Linked DNA regions of Homo sapiens: region 1 is linked to region 2. The links come from fine-mapping of genetic effects on gene expression. Tissue or cell type: whole blood. Region 2 holds a variant in brackets; the other region holds the start of a gene. All regions are shown on one strand. Distances are from middle to middle.

Evidence for each region. PIP is the estimated chance that this variant, and not a neighbour inherited with it, causes the effect.
Region 1: it holds the start of PCNX4, and the variant in region 2 is fine-mapped to the expression of PCNX4 in whole blood (TOPMed, PIP above 0.99).

Annotation. Positions count from the first base shown.
Region 1 is chr14:60,086,557-60,097,071 of GRCh38, forward strand. PCNX4 (pecanex 4) reads left to right here and starts at 5,367. Exons shown (of 11, transcript NM_001330177.2): 1 at 5,367-5,863. It overlaps PCNX4-DT (PCNX4 divergent transcript), which reads right to left and starts at 5,190. Exons shown (of 5, transcript XR_943918.4): 1 at 5,147-5,190. RefSeq lists enhancers at 5,188-5,317, 5,408-5,597, 5,561-6,194, 7,775-8,069, 7,852-8,436 and a silencer at 7,775-8,069.
Region 2 is chr14:60,161,239-60,171,753 of GRCh38, forward strand. DHRS7 (dehydrogenase/reductase 7) reads right to left here and starts at 4,160. Exons shown (of 7, transcript NM_016029.4): 1 at 3,939-4,160. The coding sequence starts at 4,071. It also overlaps the pseudogene SCOCP1. RefSeq lists enhancers at 3,624-3,683, 3,874-3,923 and a silencer at 4,124-4,393. The variant G/C (reference allele first, on the strand shown) is at 4,290.

The DNA.
Region 1 (10,515 bases), 75 kb before region 2:
AAGTGAAAGTTCCCCTTCCGGTCAAATCCCAGTTAATCTCTTGAGGTTAAGATCTGCTGTTTCTTATGTGTCTTTCAGAAATATGCATATATAAAACATGCTCATGCTTACATTCAGTTTAACATAAAATCATACCATGCAAATCATAATTTTTAATTGTTTTAATTAACATAAGTTGGACATCTTTGCATAGGTGTACATGCTGATATATCTCCTTTTTATATAATCTATTTAACCAGTCCCCTATTGAAGACTGTTTTGTGCTTCTTTGATATTACAAATTTTCTAGTACAAACACCTGTAGTAGCAAAAACACAAAACAGTCTTCAATAAGGAATAGGTTCAATAAACTTAAATGAAATCCTGCGTCAAGGGGAACTCCATTTTAAATTTTGTTAAACACAGCCAAGCTAAGTTTCAAAAATGTTCCTCTAATCTACCATCCCACCAAAATTGGTTTTTGTTATTTTATGCATAAACTGTTATTTGCTAAATGTGGTTTCATTTCCCATTAATAATTATTTAATATGAGTAACCTCTAGTTTTTGTGTTTTAAAATATATTAACCTAAAGAGAGCATCACAGTGTAAACTGCAGGAAGTAATTGTAACAAATGTGGACTTTTCCACTCAACAGTACAATAAGGCTGGAAGGATTGCAGGGGGGTCAACAGGGTTTCCTCCAACATTAGGCAAATTACACCTAACTTTTCCCCCCTACTCTTATGTAATCACAACTATCCTACCCAGTAGAAATTCTCTCAGTTAACTTGCACATGGCACTTCCATTTATATATTCATTCTAAAGGAAAGTGAAGATAATATTCACAAAATTCTAAATGGTTAGTACATTTATAAACAGAGAACTTGGCAGGCAAATGCCAGGAAAGGGGCATCTACTTGAGGTTGCTAACTTCAGTTATAGCTTTAGAAATTAATAAGGCATCATATCCTTGGTCACTGTCAGCAGGTTAACTGATGCTCCAATCTAGTGTAAAATGCTGGGAAAAAGACTATGAAATCTGCATCATCAACTATCAATAATGTTTGCAAAAATAAAGGAGAATCATTGTACTTAATTCAGATGTGTGTAATTTAATTTTTGTAGAATCAAATTGTTAAGTACGCCTGTGGTTGGTGTTTGGCAGACACACCAGACAACAAAACGTAAGCATGTCCTGAGAATGACCCCATATGGCAGACACACCTCAGTGTAGGTTTGGTCTTCCCAGCATGGCCAGCCCAGAGATTCATCCTTATCTATGAGAACATCTGAGCCCCATCCCATCCTATGGGACCTGGGCCATACAGGAGATTGAGGCCCTTTGTTTTGGGTTAAAGGAAGGTTGCCAGATGGAGATTGCTAGGGGGAGGGTGTTAAGTGCAAACGCTATCTAAACTGCATGCTTTCTGCACTTGGTTGCACTTCTGTCCAGCCCACTGCCACTGTAGTGCTCTGTATGTAAGTTCCCTTCAATAAACCCTATATATCTCATTTGCTGGCTCTGGGTCTCTATTTGGCCTCTTGAACCTGGTGCCATCCATACTGAAGTGAATGGGGTCTGGCATGACAGATGTTTACAGTTTTGTTACCATTAAAATTTGATCTTTCAGTGAAGTTAAAATTTTTACAAAATGTAACATAATTTAAAAAATTAAAGTCTAGCTTTTTAAATATTCCAATTTACTGATTTCCAGTCTACTAATAATTCTACTGTGTTCTTTCTTAAACACCTGTGTTTTTTTAAACAATTATCCAAAATAAGTTTCCAGTAGTTACAATGTTCCAAAATAATATCAACTGGAACACCTCTAAAATAAAGTCTCATCTGTGAAGTTATTGCTGTGGAATAATAGTGAAATTTAAGAGCTATACAAGAAAACTAAAAATTCTTTATCATAACCAAAATTTGAAACTATTCTTTTATCATACACTCCCCATCAGTAATTACTGTAAATTTTTCAGAACTGCAATTTAAAAGAAATATATTGTATCTTAGAGTAAAGCTTGAGACCAACCAATCGCAAAGCTATGATTACATTATATATTGTTTATTTGATGGTTCTATTTATGATTGTTTATGGGATATGAAAGTTTCTATATTAAAGAAAGTTTCAATATGAAACACTGTAATTAACTATTGGGCACGTCCTGTCTTTAATATTCTCATAACTCATAACTTGCCCAACCCAAATCTCACGAACATGCTCAGACACTCTAAAATTTCTACTCATCACATGTCCTTTCACATGATGTTTGATGCATATCATGATCTATGATACAGTGACTTTCAATAAGCCATATAAGTCAATCTTTTTATTTTATAGTCCTTTTCTTCTTCGGTTTTCTTCTTGTCCCATTAAGATATAAACCTTGACATTCTTTTCCAATCTTATTACTTCAACAATCTTTTAAAAAAAATTATTGAATATTCTACATCTTAACTTCTCTCCCAAGGTCAATATGTAATATAGGTCCAATTCTGTATTTCCAACTGGGCATAGGCACCTGAATATCGCATCAGCCCCTTACACACAGGTCTCAAAGTAGATTCATTATCTTTCTTCCCAAAGCTATTATTCCTCCTGTGTTTCTTTAAAGGCACCCGGAACTGTGAGCATGATTTTGCCTTCTCTTTGGCCCATACCTAGTGCTGCAGCTCTGCATTATTTTCAGAGACTTCTGGCCAGTGGTCTCTGGGAACAAGGCAGAGTGAGGGTTTATGGTGTGGGTTTTGCTTTTGTTTTACTTTTTAGCAAGAGAAGTTAACTTGGGTATGAACTGAAAACGGGCATTACCATTACACAATAACACGTATGTCATGATAATGCCTGGCTAAACATCTTCTCTGGCTGAAGCAGCAGTTCCAGATTTTTCACAATTTGTTTCATTTTATGTGAATCAGCAGGGTAGGAAAAAATACACGAATCTTGAAGACATACAGATACGGACTCAACTCCAGATGTCATCACTTATTTTACTTTTCTCAAGCTCAGATTCCTTACATTTGAAATAATAATAAGCTACCTCATAAGGTTAAGATTAAATGAGGTACACAAAGTACTGATTCTATGTATGCTCTAAGTATGTGTTGAATGAATTAAAGAATAAATGTTCCCCTACCTGGAATACCTCTTCTCCCAGCTAACTCTGTTTTTGTTTTTGTTTTGTTTTTTTTTTTTTGAGACAAGATCTCACTCTGTTGTCCAGGCTGGAGTGCAGTGGTGCAATTTCGGCTCACTGCAACAACCTCTTACCTCAGCCTCTGAGTAGCTGGGACCACAGGCGCACACAACCACACCTGGCTAATTTTTTGTATCTTTTGTAGAGACAGGGTTTCACCATGTTGCCTCAAACTCCTAGGCTCAAGCGATCCTCCTACCTCAGCCTCCCAAAGTGCTAGGATTGCAGGCAAGAGCCACCACGCCTGGCCCAGCTGTCCACTCACCCTTTAAAAATGGATTGCAACCATCCTTAATTTCCCCAGAATTATGTGTCCCACTTTGTTTCTGAAGCTCAGCGCATACCTGTTTATCACATACACTGTAATTACTGATGTCCTTGTTGTTCAAGTTATGTCCTTGATGTCCAAGTTATATTTTGGTAAATTCCTTAAGGATCATGTTTTATTTGACTTTATATCTGCAGCAATTAGTGTAGTTCCTGACAAATAGGAACCACTATTCCCTTCACTATTTCAATAAATGTTGAATGAATATTTTATACACAGCTAACCAAAGGGCTTGTACCATATGCCCTACTAATTTTATTCTAAGAAAGCACGATGTTCAAATATATTTGAAAAACAGCAGATATTTCAACAATAAACATGTTAATTCTGCTTGGGTCATATGTAATGCCCATGAGAAGAACAAGCATAAATACAGACTCTCTACATAAAGATAATAGCTCATCCTTACTAAGCACTTAAGCTGTGCCATTTACTCTGCTAAGCAATTTACAATTATTTGATTTAATCCAATGACATAACTCTCTGCGGGTTAAGTTCTATTATTTGCCTTATTTTACAAGATATGGGGAAACTGAGCACTAGAGAAATTACATAACCTCAAGATCTCACAAGTAGTAAGCAGTAGTGCCAGGGTTTCAACCCAGACTTCCTGACTCTGGAGCCTCCACTCTTAATTACATGAAACTCAGACTTCTTGGCGGTAAGTGATGCTTCCGAGATGCTTAATGTGGTACTCTGACCCGCAATGAGTGAGCTTCAATGAGAAAAACTATGGATGGACCAACAGCACGTTTTCCCATATTCTATCAAATCGTGAAGATACCAAACTATGAAAGGGTCTACCTGCAAATTAAGTCCTTGAAGACAAGTATATGTATATCCGGGGTTTTCTTCCACATGCTTTCAACACACTACACTTTTGCTCTGGACACAATATCTTAAAAATAAATAAATAAAGCTTTGGCTTTTAATATGAACACAGTAATTATTTTTCTATTACGACCTGAAAACCTAAATACTTAAATACAAAGTCAGCATTTCCAAGACAGCCAAGAGCCAAGAATTAAAAAAAAAAAAAAATTAAGGCCGCATTTATAGTTTTGAGGAATGGAGATCCAAACAAAACAGTCCACAAGTCATCTTGGACGCTGAAGTGTGCAGAACTGCTAGGGCATCTACCCAATCACATGGGGGAATTGCGGGTACCTTGATACCGACAAGTTAGCTTCAAAGTTCCCTTACCCGAGCCTCTAAATCAGCTGAGACCAATCATTGTTAACGCTCTCCGGGGCCGTCTTGAGGACTCCCAGTTGGCAATCTGGAACGTGTCCAGAACTTGGTGGGGCGGGGGGGGGATCATATTTCGTGGAGAATGGGGGAGGTGAGCCCTGGGTATAGGGATAACTTTTTAACTAGCGTTAATTGGGGTCTTTGCGGCCAGGCTGTAAAGATTCCCGCCACACTAATATGAATCAGCCATGGCCTTTTAATTGGAACGCCGGAACTCTGCCTTGTTTTATTAATATCTTAATAACACGTTTCTATAATGGACATGTTGGTTCCTTGTATTTTAAAACGCAGCCACAAACTGAGGCGATAGCGATCACGTTATGCAGTCCCCAATCGTCCAAGCCGAATAGGCTGCATGAAGTATCACTCAAAAACATTCATTACCGTCGGTGTGTTGAGTGGTAACGCCAGTGTGCGAATTCATTAATGGAAATCACGGGACCCCGAGCGGTTGGAGATCTGCCACACCCCTCTGCCTGCGTTAAGACAGCCTGACCCGACCTCTGGTAAATTAATGCGCAAAATGGCGGTTGCACGTCTGTTTCCCCACCCCGGCGCACAATCCTGAGGAAGGACGTCACGTCACCAGGGCAACGACGCTCTTGCGTAAAGGCCCGGCCCAAGGGAACGTTCAGGGCGTCTCGGCTTTCCCCGCTGCTGCTTCTGCTAGGCCCAGTGCGAGACCAGAGCACGAGCGACTCCCGTCGTCCCCGGCCAGGCAGATGTTGGCCTAGTCCTGGCGCGAACGAAGCGCGCTATTTCCCTGCTTCCTCTAGGCCAAGCCTGCTTTACGGCAGGGCCCGCCTCGGGAGCGAGCACAGACCGGGGCAGCGAGGCCAGCCAGGCGCCGACGAGGTCCCCGAACGCGCACGCGCTCCGTTCAGCTCCGGGTGGCGGCCGCCGGAGTAGACGTTAGCCATGGAAACCGAGAGCTGGCCCGGGCGGGGCCGCGGTGAGCTCGTTATTCGGCCGCCGCAGCTTTTCTGCCTCCGCATTCGGGCACTAACCAACCTCCCGGCGGGAGCGCCCAGCCCGAGTTTACCTGCAAAAATGCGGTCCCTGGGATGCCTTCGCGTCTTCTCTTCCCTCGGGTGACTTGAGGTACGTTCGTTGTCCGACGTCCACCTCGGGACTTCTTCGGCATCTTAATGTCCAAGCCTGTGCGGAGAGCCAAGTTGTTCTAGGGGCTTTCATTGCCACAAGAAACATATTTTTCGTTTTTCGTTGCAAAACCTTTAAGTGCAATTATTGCGCTTAATGAACTCAGTCATTAGAGATAGTAATTCAGTGTGATTTTAACTTTCCTTTGAAAGACTACTTTAGCCTGTTGAATTGTAGCATTTTGTTTCTAAGAGACTCGTACGAAATGGAATATGGCACACCCACCCGGAGCTGTGTCCGTTAGGTAGAACTGTACTCTCGCAATATCTCCAACTAAACCTCTTTTGTCCGAATTGTTCAACTCATGGCCCCCTGAACGTGAAGCGCTCCTTCCCCACTGATCTCGACCTCTGTCCCCACAACCTCTTGTCTCTCCAGGACCAGAATTTACTCCAGTGAATCGGAAGTTGTTTTCCATGCCGCTGAATTGGTTATCTGCTCTGTATCCATCATTTTTCACTTACTCATTTTTTACTATTTTTAGGTGTTTGTTTTCTTCATTAAATCATTCCTGCAGTTAGGGCAAAGACTGCCCTTCATGTTATTTGGTATCCACCGCCACTCACGCCAAATCCCCAGACCTTTAGCATAGCATCCAGTTCAGATGTTGCCTTTTCACGAATTTAACTGTTTGTAGCATCTGTTGGCTGCTCCTAAATTTCCTACTTAAAGAGCTGCCTTCTAATTATTAACTGCTGTGGAAAATACCAATCAGGGAAGCTTTTTCTTTTTTAAGAGCTTTATTGAGATGTAATTTACATTCAATACAATTCACCCATTTATAGAATTGTGCAACCCTTACCACAGTCAAGTTTGGAACATTTTCATCACCCCAAAAAGAAACCTTTTACCCTCAGCAGTCACCACCTCCCTCCCCCCATTATCCTTACCCCACCAGCCATAAGCAATTACTAATCTGTTTTCTGTCCCCATAAATTTGCTTATTTTGGACATTTCACATAGACGGGAAAATACAATATGTGGCCTTTTGTAACGGGCTTTCACTTAGTGTGTTTTCAAGGTTCAGCCATGTTGTAGAATGTATGAGTACTTCATTCCTTTTTATAGTCTAATTTCATTGTGTGGATATATCACATTTATCCATTCATTGATGGACATTTGGGTTGTTTTCATTTTTTGGCTGTTAGTAATATTTCTTCTATGAATCTTTTGTGTACAGATTTTTGTGTAGACATATATGTTTTTATCTCTGTTGGGTGTATACCTGAGAGTAGAATTACTGGGTTATATGGTAACTCTATGTTTAGCCTTTTGAGGAACTGCTAGACTGTTTCCCAAAGGAGCTGTATCATTTTACATAACCACCAGATATGTTTGAGGGTTCTGATTTCTCCACAGTCTCATGAATACTTATTATTGTCTGCCATTTTTATTTTAGCCAGTCAAGGAGGTTTGAAATGGTACCTCATTATGGTTTCAGTTTGTGTTTTTCTAATGAGTAATGATGTTGAGTATCATTTTATATTTTCTGTGCTTATTAACCATTTGTATATCATCTTTGGAGAAATGTCTGTTCATATCCTTTGCTCATTTTTTAAAGATTGGATTATTTGATTTCTCATTATTGAATTGTAAGAGTTCTTTATATAGTCTAGCTATAAGTCATATATATATATGATTTGCACAAATTTTCTTCCATTCTATAGGTTGTTCTCACTTTCATGATGGTGAGAACCTTGTTTTTTAAACAGTTTCTCACTTGTCTTGTGAAAGGGTACTGGATACCAACCCCCTCATGCTGGCTTAGCCATCAAAAGCGTCCCATTTTTACACTTTGTAGATTCCTCTTGGACCCACTTTTCTCCAAAGAACCCTATTCCCCCAAGTTATCCTTCCAGTTCTCTAGCATCAAAACAAAATTCGCTTTCATTTGGCAGTTGTTAGTCCAAACTGCACCATTTTGTAAGTCCCCCAGCATTTTGCAGACCTTGGTCAAAGTGACACATTCCAGGCGAGTTTGGGCTGTGAGAAACATCCTGCCTAACCACCTGACCACAACACACAAGAACATCCTTATCATACCCTGCTAAGCAAAGGCCCAACTGAAGGAACGTCCCTATCATACCCTGCAACTGGAACAAAGGGCCAAACCACCTGATCATAGGAACATCTTAATATCCTGCCGGGCAGCAAACCAGACAGCCCAGACCCCTCCTGCCCATACCTATAAGTCCCCAGCCTGTGAACGGCAGTGGGCTCTGGCATTAAGCTGCACCCCCCACCTCTGCAGGTTTTTGCAATATACTTGTGTTGCTGTAGAGCCCCCCCCCACCCCCATCTTTCTTTAACTCCCACCTTCCCTTTAAAAAAAACCTAACAGCAATAGCATGGTATGATTCAAAAACTCATTTTGCCACTAACTGACATTGTATCTTGGTTAAGTCACTTAATATCACTGGTTCTCAGGTTTTTTTGTAAAATAAATTAATTTATTTCTAGTAATTCATGTGAGTAGCAGACTTCATTCACCTGATACTTGATTTTAAAAGAAAAGTTTTTCAACCCAGGGAATTTATAGTGGGTGTCAGTCGAGAAAAATGATGGGACAAGTCTCAATCATTTTAGGAGATTTATTTGCCAAAGTTAAGGACGTGCCCGGGAGGCAAGTCTATGTCTTTCTTCGAAGATGATTTTGAGGTCTCCAAATTTAAAGGGGAAAGGGCAGGATGTTGAGAAGTACACAATTGTCATGTAAGAGGTGGGTAGGGGCAAATAGTTATTTATGCCTTTGGCTCAGTGAATCTGCATTTTTTACATAAGATGACATAAAAGGGGCAGAGGAAAATATTAGGGGAATCTGCATTTTACATAAGATAACAGACAAAATGGGGTAGGGGAACAATCAGATTTGCATTTATGTCTGGTGGGCCAGGGGTAACTGCACCTGTAAGCTGTCAATTGACATTGCCAGGATGAAATTTTAGCTCACTGGGAATTTCCCTGTGGGCAAAATATAGGGGAGGTGTGTAGCTTTTCATCTTGTAGCCATCCTATTTAGAAACCAAAAGGGGGGAGACAGGTTTGCATGACCCAGTTCCCAGCTTGACTTCTTCCCTTTGGCTAAATGAGTTTGGGGTCCCAAAATTTAATTTCCTTTCACATTTCCCTTCTTTTTTCTGTAAAATCTTTTGGAGAAAGCATTTTAAAAGGAAGACGAGTTCCTGGCCTCAGGTTGGTTTTTCCTCCCTTTTTTGAGCTGCTTTCTTATTGCTAGGATGGTTTATTCCTAGAAGTTCAGGTCCCCAGTCTCTAGGAAGGCTCATTTCTAAGAGGTCATGTCCCATGAAGGTTAAAAAAAAAAAATAGGAAGAGGAAAGAAGTAAAAAAGGAAAGGAAAAAAAAAGAAAAAATATATAGGGACCTAGGCCAGATTTATAGCAACAAAAGGAAATCACACCTGGAAGCTGGGTCAGGCTATATTACTGCCTTCTCAATTAGAGCAATTCTCTAGGGAATCATTACCCTAGCCCTTTCAGTTCATTGACATATTTGCAGGCACATAACCATAACAACACTGTAAGCAGAAACAGGACACAACACAAACTATTATTCCTAATATAAGCAATAAGCTTCTGTCACCAAGTTTCCCAGGATCCAAACCCACCACTCAACTGATTGATTAACGAAGGTTTTGGGTGTGACAGATATCTGGGTTTTCATATCAGTCATAAGTCAGATTATGTTCTTCAATTCATCTGGAATATAAACACAACATTCCATTTTTATGATGGTGCAGGTCCTCCCTTGTGCTGCCGTGAGTCTATGTAAAGCCATACGGTTTTGCAGCACAGCTTTCCTCATAAGCATGACTTCCTTGTTTAGCAAGGAAATACTCATGCAGCTATCATTCAGGACCTTTTGGGAGTAATTCACTAAAGCCTCTATATGCCATATAACATCTTCAGTACCTATCTGTGGTACAAAGATTGAAGCTAAGTGGTCATACCATTAGAATACCAAATGTGTCCAACAAGATTGTAAATGAAAAAGGTTTGCTGGTTTTGGCAGGTCTGAATTACTCGTCCTTGTGCCCAGGCATAACATAGGGAACATTGTCCTAACCACTCTGGAGGTAACCACGGCCATAAGTTAGTGCCACATAGCCAATATGTCCCATTTGGAGCTAGCCAATAAATAACTGATCATTGGCACCCAATGGGTGGCAAGCCATTCAGTGTCTTGTAATATGATAGTGTGGTCACAGCGTTCTCCAGGTATCCACCCCATATCTCTCGTACTGTTTGGACATAGGTCCTTGGTGTGATTTCTTTGCTCCCAACACAAAGCATTTTGGCTGAGTTGGCCAAATGAAGGGGTGAGCCAGATAAATCAATACCAATTTAAAAGGCCTGTGTAACAAATAATTATTCTTGCTGTACTGTATCCAAATAATTAAGCCAAGTATAGTAAAGCAAACCAGTCCTACCATGACTTGTCTTTTAATAAGTGGGAAACTGGAGAGAGAAAATTATGTTTCAAAAACTGTAGCACACCTGTTGTTAAATTCTAGTCTTGCCTCATGTTTTCCAATTTTTAGTATTTTCTACAGTTTAAATTCTGATTTTTCTGGC
Region 2 (10,515 bases):
AGCTTATGGTTATTAGAGCTGGGCTACCTTTAATCATGGAATAATCTTATGTATAGGTGTAAGAATGACTCACTATATGAATACATACTAATCATATTACAAACATTTTGCATCCCTTTTGTGACCTAGACAGACATTTAAATTGTGTTGCAATTCTGCTTTCTTGTTTTACAAAAAGCTGTTTCAGGAAGAAAAGAAAAGAAATGAAACCTGTCTTCTAAATGACAATCCCTCACAGCTGTTAGGGAAGACAGCCATTATGTCTTCCCTAAGTCCTTTCATCTCTTACCTTCTCTAAGGCTAAATAAACCTATCCAATTTCTGCCACCTTCCCTCACATGACATGGTATCAGGTTTCCTCACTCTTCTGCTCACACCCACCTGCACCAATTCTAGTTGGTTAATGTTCCTCTTTATTAAAGGGAGCTGGCTAGGGCAGGACACAGGATTCGGTAGGGTCTGGACAGTGCAGAGCAGGATGAGATGTCAAAAATCACTTCCCTTGTCCCCCAGAAGGTAGGGTCTATGAGGGCCTGGACTGTGGCTGATTCAGTCACTGCAGTGTCCCCAGTGCCCCAGCACAGAGGCCGGCACATACAAGCAGCTAGTCAGGAGACATCTGTTGTTTGCAGTTGTTGCTTCAGACACTGAGGTCTACAAATGCAACCCAAGGTTGCCTGATCTTTTCTGGCAGCCACTTCACAGTTGACTCCTATTGAGGTTACTGTTAACAAAAACCTGAGTTTTGCTCACATGTGCTGCTGTTGAAATTTTTCCTCCTCTAGACTTGTGCCATGGATTTTTCTGGACCATTTTAATGTCTAAAATTAGTCACCCTTAAATTTCACCATATGTGGCTGGGCTTGGCAGTTCACATCTGTTATCCTAGCACTTTGAGAGGCCAAGGTGGAAGGATCACTTGAGGCCAGGAGTTCAAGACCAGCCTGGAACATAGTGAGAGCCTGTTTCTACAAAAAGTTTAAAAATATCCAGGTGTGGTGGTTTGCACCTGTAGTCCTAGCTACTGGGGAGGCTGAGGTGGGAGGATTGCCTGAGCCCAGGAGTTCGAGGCTGCAGTGAGCTATGATCATGCCACTGCACTCCAGGCTGGGTGACAAAGCAAGACCTTGTCTCTCTATTAAAAAAAAAAAAAAATCACCATGTGAGATATATGCTTGGAAATGCACAGAATTTCTCTAGACGGATACAGAGGAGGCAGGAAATGGTGGCTGCCTCGAGAGAAGCACACTAGGTAGCTAGGGCACAAGGGTCAGAGAAAGCTCTTTACTTTTTACTATATATCTTTTTGTATTTTTACTTTTGTATTATGTGAGTGTGCTATTTTTTTAAGTGACAAAAAATAATAAACCTACAGAGAAGTCAAGAAGGATTTTTTTTTCTTTTTTCATCTTGATAGAGTCTGCCCATCTCTCCAGTCTGAGCTGTTTTGGGAATCTGAGTCTATTTCAATTTTCCTTTAATCTTTTCTTCTTTCTCACTCCCTACCTCCACCAGGAGTCTTTTTAGACTTTTTTTTCCCCTAAAACTCTCCTGTGAAATGTTAATTCCACAGATATACTGTATATCATTTATGTACTGTACATATATCTGTGCTTTATACATAAAAGGAGTTCTATAAAGTTTACTCCTGCCAGGCGCAGTGGCTAATGCCTGTAATCCCAACACTTTGGGAGGCAGAGCGGGGTGGATCACCTGAGGTCAGGGGTTTGAGACTAGCCTGGCCAACATGGCGAAACCCCAGGTCTACTAAAAATACAAAACTTACCCATGCGTGGTGGCACGCACCTGTAATCCCAGCTACTAGGGAGGCTGAAGCAGGAGAATCACTTGAACCCAGGAGATAGAGGTTGCAGTGAGCCAAGATCATACCACTGCACTCCAGCCTGGCCAACAGAGCGAGACTCTGTCTCAAAAAAAAAAAGAAAAAGAAAAAAAGCTTACTCCTTAGTTAATAAGCATATGACTAAATAAGCATATGACTAAATTTTAAAATTAAGTTAAATGTTAAATTAAAATTTAAAAGTTATTAACTTCTAACTTTATAACTGTATTTGCTGAAAAACATTTTTATGGTTTTTGAGACAGTGTCTCACTATGCTGCCCAGGCTGGTCTTGAACTCCTGGGCTCAAATGACCCTCCTACCTTAGCCTCCAGAGTAGTTGGGATTGCAGGTACATGCCACCACGCCAGATTTTTGCTGAATAACTTTTATGTAACTTACTTAGATAAATAGCAATTTATCAAACTACATGTGCAAATTTGCAAATTATATAACTACATAATGATAACAATGTAATTAAATTTAAAATCCTTCAAACTGTTCTTTTCCGACAAAACACAACTGAAAATATTAAATGAATTTCTTAAAATTTTCAATGATCTTAACTTTTAACTTTTCCTTAATATGAGAAAATAACTTTTAACTTAGTAGCTTAGAGATATTCATTCAGATGTTGTCAATAATTTTGCTTTTTAGCACTTGACATAATTTGATGGGTTGAATATTTTTTGTAGGATTAAATAATAAAATATAATCTATTTTCGTTTAATTCTCCAAGTCCAAGTGAACACAAAAGCACTAAAGATCAAACACAAACAACGTCTGCAAGGCAGCCAATGGCAGCCAATAGGCACACATATTCCCCCGCTGAGGTGGAACAATCGATCAAGAGAAAGCCCTTGGTTAATGAAGTTGTGCAGTATTTGGGATTCCTGCTTTAAAAGGAGAAAGCCCAATCACTTGCCATAGTTTTGTAGCACTGCTGTGGCGTCCATGTTGTGTATTTTTCGTGAACTCAATGTCAGTGCTGCACATGCTATACCCAAGAAAACCCAACCAGAAAAATGAAATACTAAGGAATAATATTTTCTCGGGTGGGGTTAAGCTTTGGAGGGGCACAAACCACTGTATTACCAGATTTTTTTTTTTTTTTTTTTTTGTCCACAGGAACCAATTCTCACCTTGGGATCAATATCACCCCCCTCAACGCCCAACCCATAACGCCCCCCCCAAACATAGTCTATCTTTCGAGCTACTATCTCTTCCAAGCAAACTTTGTAACATGCTTTGAGTATTTTTATACCAGAAACTTGGTCCAGGGAAACCCCATTTCCCCAAGTCCTTAAGGATCCAAAGCCTAGCTTTCGGTAGGTCATTTAATTTCTCTGAACATCAGTTTCCCTATCTGGAAAATAAGATTAATAATGCCTACCTTGTAAGAGTTGTTGTAAAAGTTAAATGTTATGTGTGTAAAGCGCTGAGCCAACATACAGCAAATGTACACGATGTCAAATATTAAGCAAGACACAGATAAAGTGAGATAGGCAGTATGCCAATAATGATCTCGCTCCAGCAAACTGCCATTTTTAGTTCTTTCTAGTGTTTGACTAGAATGAGTAAGTAGGTGAAGGACTTCGGATTATCTCAGATTTTATTTCAAAACTGCAGGAGTGGGAAGTGGAGGACAGACTACTTCAGGTAGTAGAACGACCGGGCTTCCGGTACTTACAAAGGAGTTTCCCTTACAAACGCAGGGGGACGCTCACTGTTTCTCAAAGTATCGTCCTCTGAGACAACACCAGAATCCCTTGAGTCCTGCGTAAGATGTCAGAGTCCTCAGGAGCACCGCCGACTCCAGTGCTCTCTTAACAGTTTGGCACTCCCTGGAGAGGTTTCCTAGCCTGAATGGCAAGTCCATGCCATCTTCCGACCAGTACAGAAGACAAAGGGGCTTTTTAGCCCTCGCCTCTTCCTCCCCAACCCGCAGCCCCTGCGTAAGGGGCAGCCGGGCCTTCGGGAAGCTCCACGCAACCCACAAAGGACCCGGGATCACTGCAGAACCCCCGGAGACCCGGACACGCCTCGGCAGCTCCGAGCCCGGCCTCCCACTCGGGAGAGGCTTTGGCCGGTCCTCACCTGGGCGTCGTCCCTGCCACTCGGCCCATAGTAGCGTCAGGTCGCCGTCAGCCCTCAGGAAGCGCAGCAGCTGCACCAAGAGCAGGAGCAGCGCGCACAGCACCAGCAGCCACAGCAGCAGCTCCCAGTTCATTGCGGCCGCGCACGCCCAGCTCGGGGGGAAGAAGACGGCCCGCACCAGAGTCGCGTCGCTGCCCTGCGGGATCGCAGCGCCACCCCTTCGGCCAGCCCAGAGCCGCACTGCCCCGGCTCCGCCCAGGGAGCAGGCCGGGAGGAGGAGCGGCTCGGGCGCGCCGGGCTCAGCACTCGCGGCCCCACTCGCGGTCCTTGGGCGGCCCGCGCCCTCATGCG[G/C]CACACCCGGCGGGGCCGGCAGATTGCTTGAATTCAAGTGTCCGAGACCAGCCTGGGCAACATGAGGAAACCCTGTGTCTACCAAAAATAAATAAATAAAATTCCAGTATTTTTAAAGAAGCTGATTCAAACATAAGCTACATATTATACTACGTTATTTCCTCTCTGTACAGGGACACTATCAACGGCCAGGAGACAGATAGAATCATTCTTGCTTGGCCCCTCTTCTCCATTCCTATTCAGAAAGAACATCCCCTTTTCAAGCTTCAGTATCTTTTCATGAGGTCGAGAAAGTGCTGAAGAAAGACTGTGGCTATCACTCAAGACCCCACAAGCCAAGGCAATGGTCCCTCCATGGGGACAAGGTCCTTTTACAATTAGAGAAAAAAAGACTGAAGCCATGTGCTGTGTTGGCACCTTACAACCTGATTCTGACCACACACAAATTTACTCTGGTGTCTGTTTGGCAACCAAAGCCTAGGTTGGTACCAAATCCTCCCCTTACCCAAGCCATTATTCACATCCTAATGTAAACAGCAAATAAAAACAGAGAATGTAATGAAAACACCAAGGTCTTGCCTACTCTAATACACAAAAGAGTAAAATACTGTTTTTGATTAATTTCCGTTTGAAATGACCTTCAAAACATTTAATTGCTTCCCACTAAATACCTACATGTATTTGAGGCATCAATAGTAGCATCTTTCTTGTTTTCAAGCATTTGAAAGCAAGAGGGTTTTCCATTCACAAGCCTCAGAGGGACCCAGTTAGAGTGCATAGAAACTAGGCCATGTATGAGAACGACCTGTGGCCAAATGGAGAAAGTTCTGGGCGTTGATGCAGTAGAACTTTCATCCTCTTCATTTCCTAGAGTACTTTGTGTGCTCTGATGTCAAAGGCTCTTCCTTGGCTGAAACTAAATATGACTTTAAAACAGTCATGGAAATAAAAGAAGCAGTGACTTCCCTCCCCAGTGTTGTTTTCTTTTTCTAGTCTTGCCTGCCAAACTTTTGTTTTTCTTTAAATGTTTTGAAGAATGTTACTTGCAGTAATCAAATTTCCTTAAATAGCTCTTCCTTCTCTTTTTAAATCCTATTATAAACCCCCTACCTGCCTCCCCACCCTCATCCTTCTCTAAAAAGCTTTTTGGGGTTATCTGGACTCAGAGTCATCTTTCCCTAATCTCACCTCTTTTCACAATTACTTCTGAACTATATCTGAAATTGTTTTTTAATTATTTTCAGGGTTAATATAGTATTGTTCCAATGGAACTTTAGAATCCTTGAAATAAAGTAGCAAATCTGATGCTTCTTTTGAAGAGTCTGGAATACATAGCTTAGTGTTGACATGAGAAGCAATAAGCCCACGTTGATTGAATTCTCCTTTCCTTGAAATTTAAACCTCCTTGATAGAGAGTAGAAGGATAGTTACCAGAGGCTGAGAAGAGTAGTGGGAGGGTTGGGGGGGACGTGGAGATGGTTAACGGATACAAAAAATAGAAAGAATGAATAAGACCTAGTATTTGATAGTGCAATGGGGTGCCTATAGTCAATAATAATTTAGTTGTATGTTTTAAAACAACCAGAAGAGTATAATTGGATTGTTTGTAACATAAAGGATAAATGCTTGAGGGGGTGGATACCCCATTTACCATGATGTGATTATTACACATTGTATGCCTGTATCAAAGTATCTCATGTACTCCATAAATATATACACCTACTGTGTACCCACAAAAATTAAAAATTAAAATTCAATTTTTTAAAACCTCCTTGAAGTTCGGAAGTTAATGTTAAAATGAGAGTTGCTAGCATTTAATAAATCAATCTTCTCTAAGTATTATTAAAATGCTTTGAATAAAGTCCGAAAGTCTTTTCTATAACTGGTAACCTTCATTTTTAATTCCAGATGTAATAGAATGGTACCCTGCCTTCCCTCCTTTTAGTAATGGTCACTTTTGATGGTCTGGGGTCAGGCCCATTCATGGCAGCTAAGGCCCATTCATGGCAGCTAAGGCCCATTCAGGTCAGCTAAGATGAAGGCAGTTGTGCGTAAGCAATTGCCATCTTCCATAACAAAAGCATTATACAAAAATAACTTTAAAAATCCAGATCCTCCAAGATCGGCAGTCCCTAGGCGGGGGAAAAAAAGAGTGAGTGGAAACTGTGAGTGGAAACAGGGACTGAGGAATCTAGGGAGGGAATATTCTTCCTCAAGAACAATAAGGGGTTTGTGGTTTTTGATTGAGGATGTTTTCACATCCCTTAGATGCTTTTGGAAATGTGTTGGATGAACAGTGGCCATAGTGCCAGCTAGCCAGGGTGTCATCAGAGTGCTAACGATCTGGGCACTATGTAAAGACATACCCAACAAAGAATTGCCCTGCCCCAAAAGCTCACAGCACCCTTACTCAGAAATCCTGCAACCTGGCCACGGTGGAGAGGAGCTCTGCAATCTATTAGCAGCCTCCCTCCACAAGCTCTGGCTTACACCTGCCTGGCTGTACCCCAGCTACAAGCGTTCAGGTCATGGTCTAGTTTTCTGATATTCTTCAGGCAGACAAGGTCTTACCTAGAGTCTTATTTATAAGAAAATATAACTTACTTTCTTACCTTTAGTAATCTCATGGGATCCCTCAATAGGAATATCTCACTGCACTGTTCACCACATGCAGTTCCCCATATCAGTGCATTGATATTTTGTTTAGATTAGCCAATTTCCACAGTATCTTGGGTCTCTTAAACATAAGCAGTTTATAGCTCTCATTCTCTCTCCCTTAAATGCTCTGTTTCAAACTTCCCTTTATATATCTTGTCCATGATTTAGTAGTGGTGGTTGTTATTCTAATCTAGAACTTCAAACACTCATGCACACATGAGTACATGCAAAGCTGGTGAAATTTGAACGAGGTCTGTGGATTTTGCCAATACCAATTCCCTGGTTCTGTTATTGTTCTAAAATTATGTAAAATTTACTAGTGGGGAGAACGGGGTACAGAGTACACGTCTGTTCCATCTTTGCAACTTCCTGTGAATCTATAATCATTTTAAAGTAAAAAGTTAAAAAAATTAGGTTAAATTTCTTAAAATATGCAAATATTTTCTTAAAATTCTAAAACTGATCAATGCTTTTTCCTCTCCTTCTCTTTTTTCTCCCCTCTCCAGCCAGGACCAGCCTTGGAGATAAGCAGAGTGAACAGAAATTTATGGTCTCAGATTTAAGAAAAACAAAATTCTTTCTTGCTTCTTAAATCATACTCCATCCCATTGGCTTGCAAACATGCTGACACTCCTCATAATTTCACTCTTCATAAACCAAAGCATAAGGTCAGAGGAGAACTTGACATATTAGAACACTTAGGCATTGAAAGTGGTTAGTCTAACTAACCCATTGAAGTTTTGGAGAACCTGGGACTCAAATTTTGGAAGATGTGACAGATGATATGTTAACATACATTGCACCGAGGCTGAAGTGGGAGGATTGCTTGAGACTGCCTGGAAGGCAGAAGTTGCAGTGAGCCGAGACTGATGGTGTCACTGCACTCCAGCCTGGGCAACAGAGCAAGACCCTGTCTTAAAAAAACAAAACAAACAAACAAAAGAAACCAAAAAAAAAAAAAAAAAAAAAAAAAAAACCATTGCACCAAGTAACAGTCAACTTTTCAGCAGAGGTGAGTAGAGTTAATCAGTTAAGGCTTTCTGGAATACCAGCCCACCTCAAGGCCTTGTACATACTGTTCTCTCCACATAGAGGGATGGCCAGAAATCCCCCAGATGGATCCAACAATGCTCACCTCCTGTGTGCAAACCACCATGTATTTCCCTCCCAGGTTGTATCAGGGTTGATCACTGTAACCAGCAGAATGCTGCAGAAATGATGAGTGTGTGACTCCCAAGGATAGGTCACAGAAGCTATTGCAGCTTCTACCTCTTGCTCTCTCTTGTTTATACCTTTACTAAAGTATAATTCGAGTACAAGAAACTGCACATATTTAAGGTATACAACTTGATGAGTTTGTCAAATATATACACCTGTGAAACCATCACCACAATCAAGGTAAACATTTCAATCACCCCCAAAAGGGGTGACCCTTTGAAATCCACCCATCCTCCACCCCTTCCCTAGGCAGCCACTGATCTATTCTCTGTCACTGTATGGAAACACCTTACCTGTTTCCTCTGTGGGATGTAAAGTCCCATTTCTGGATCCTTTCAGGTCCCTGTCTAATGTCTATTCTCTTTGCCTTGCCCTTACTTTTGTTCAGATCAACTTTAGCCTTAGCAGGGAATTTGGTTTTGTAATTCCGAACCCTAAGCAGTCTTGGATTGCTGTCTGCTGAGATGGGGCATGAGAGCAGTGAGGAGCGTGATCTCTTTTAACAAAGCCGTATGCTGTTCCCAGCTATCTAAGACCAAGGCTTATCTCTTTCTAGTAGGATCTTGACAGGAGCCACAAGAAGTAACCAAGACAACAAGAGTTAACCTGTCCATATGCTTTCTAATTGCCAGGCCTATTCTAAGTGCTTTATATATATTAAATCCCTTAATCTTCACAATAATCCAGTTAATTAGGTACTATTTTAATTCCCATTTCCCTGATGAGGAAGCTTAATTGTGATTAAGTAACTTGCCCTAGGTCACACAGCTAGGAGACAGGGTCTTTGAACCTAGGTAGTCTAATTTCAGTCTTTGCTCTTGAACCACCATATAATACTGCCTCTCACACCAGAGCAGCCTAATTTTGTTCTGCTGGATTCCCTGAAGCTTCTACCTTAGTATGTACAGGTCTGAATCCCAAAGAAACTACAATAACATCTTAATGAGCTGCTTCATTACCATATCATAAAGACTGCCCACTTCCCACCCAGGGATGGAGGGAGATGGAGAGAGCCTCACTGCCTCCTACTCCACCTTGACACAGTAGTTCACATTTTAGGATATTTCATTTCTAGCACTCTACTTCTGGGTACCAATGTCTCAATCAGTCGGTACTCTCAATCGCAAATGGCAGAGACCCACTAAAATTAGCTTACGAGAAATGTTAAGGAATGTATTTGTGCCCCCATAGGTAAATCCCCTACCCTAAGGATGTGGCCTGCCTCTGCAACCAACCTGAGGTCCAGGTGAAAACCACTAACCTGTGGGCCAGGAGCCCAAGCACAGCACTGAGGCCTGTTACTTGGAGACAGAAGTGCTCAGGCAGAGTCCAGGGTCATTACCTTCATTTGGTAAGAATTTTGATGTTGATTTCTAGTGTCTAGAGACCTCAATATCCAAAATAAACATTAATATATTAATTTTCTAGGGCCGCCATAACAAAATATCACAGACTGGATGGCTTAAACAACAGAAATTTATTTTCTCACAGTGCTGGAGTCTAGAAGTTCAAGGTCAAGGTGCTGACAGGGCTGGTTTCCTCTGAGGTCCCCCTCCTTGACTTGAAGACCACCCCCTCTCCTTGTCTCATACCTCAGAAAAAGAAAGAGAATTCAAAAGTTACAGAAAGGCAAAAATAAGATCAATAGTCAGACAGCCCACTGCAGCACCTCCAGCCTGGTAGTTAAAAATCAACCCCTGACCTAACTGCTTGTATTATCCATAGATTCCAGGCATTGTGTGAAGAAGCATTGTGAAATTTTCTGTTCTGTTCTGTTCTGCTCTGTCTTGATTACCGGTGCATGCAGCCCAAGTCCCATACCCCATGCTTGCTCAATCGATCACAACCCTTTCACGTAGACCACCTTAGAGTTGTAAGCCCTTAAAGGGGGCAGGAATTTCTCTCCCAGGGAGCTCGGCTTTTGAGATGCAAGTCTGCAGAAGCTCCCAGCTGAATAAAGCTCCTTCCTTCTTTAACCCGGTATCTAAGGAGTTTTGTCTGTGGCTCGTCCTGCTATAGCAGATGGTCGTCTTCTTCCTGTCTTCACATAGTCTTTTCTCTGTGTGCATCTGTGTCCTAATCTCCTCTTCTTATAAGGACATCATCAATCATATTGGATCAGGGCCCACTGACATGACCTCGTTTTACCTTAACCACCTCTTTAACAAGCTCATCCCCAAATACAGTCTCATTCTGAGGTACTAGGAGTTAAAACTTCAACATATTAATTTCAGGAGAACACAATTCAGACCATCACAATAAACAAAAAATAAAGCTGAATTTATTGCTTAGGTATATAAGGGAGAGCTATGCTGACCAGGCCCAGTCTCTCTAAGCAGATCAGGGAACT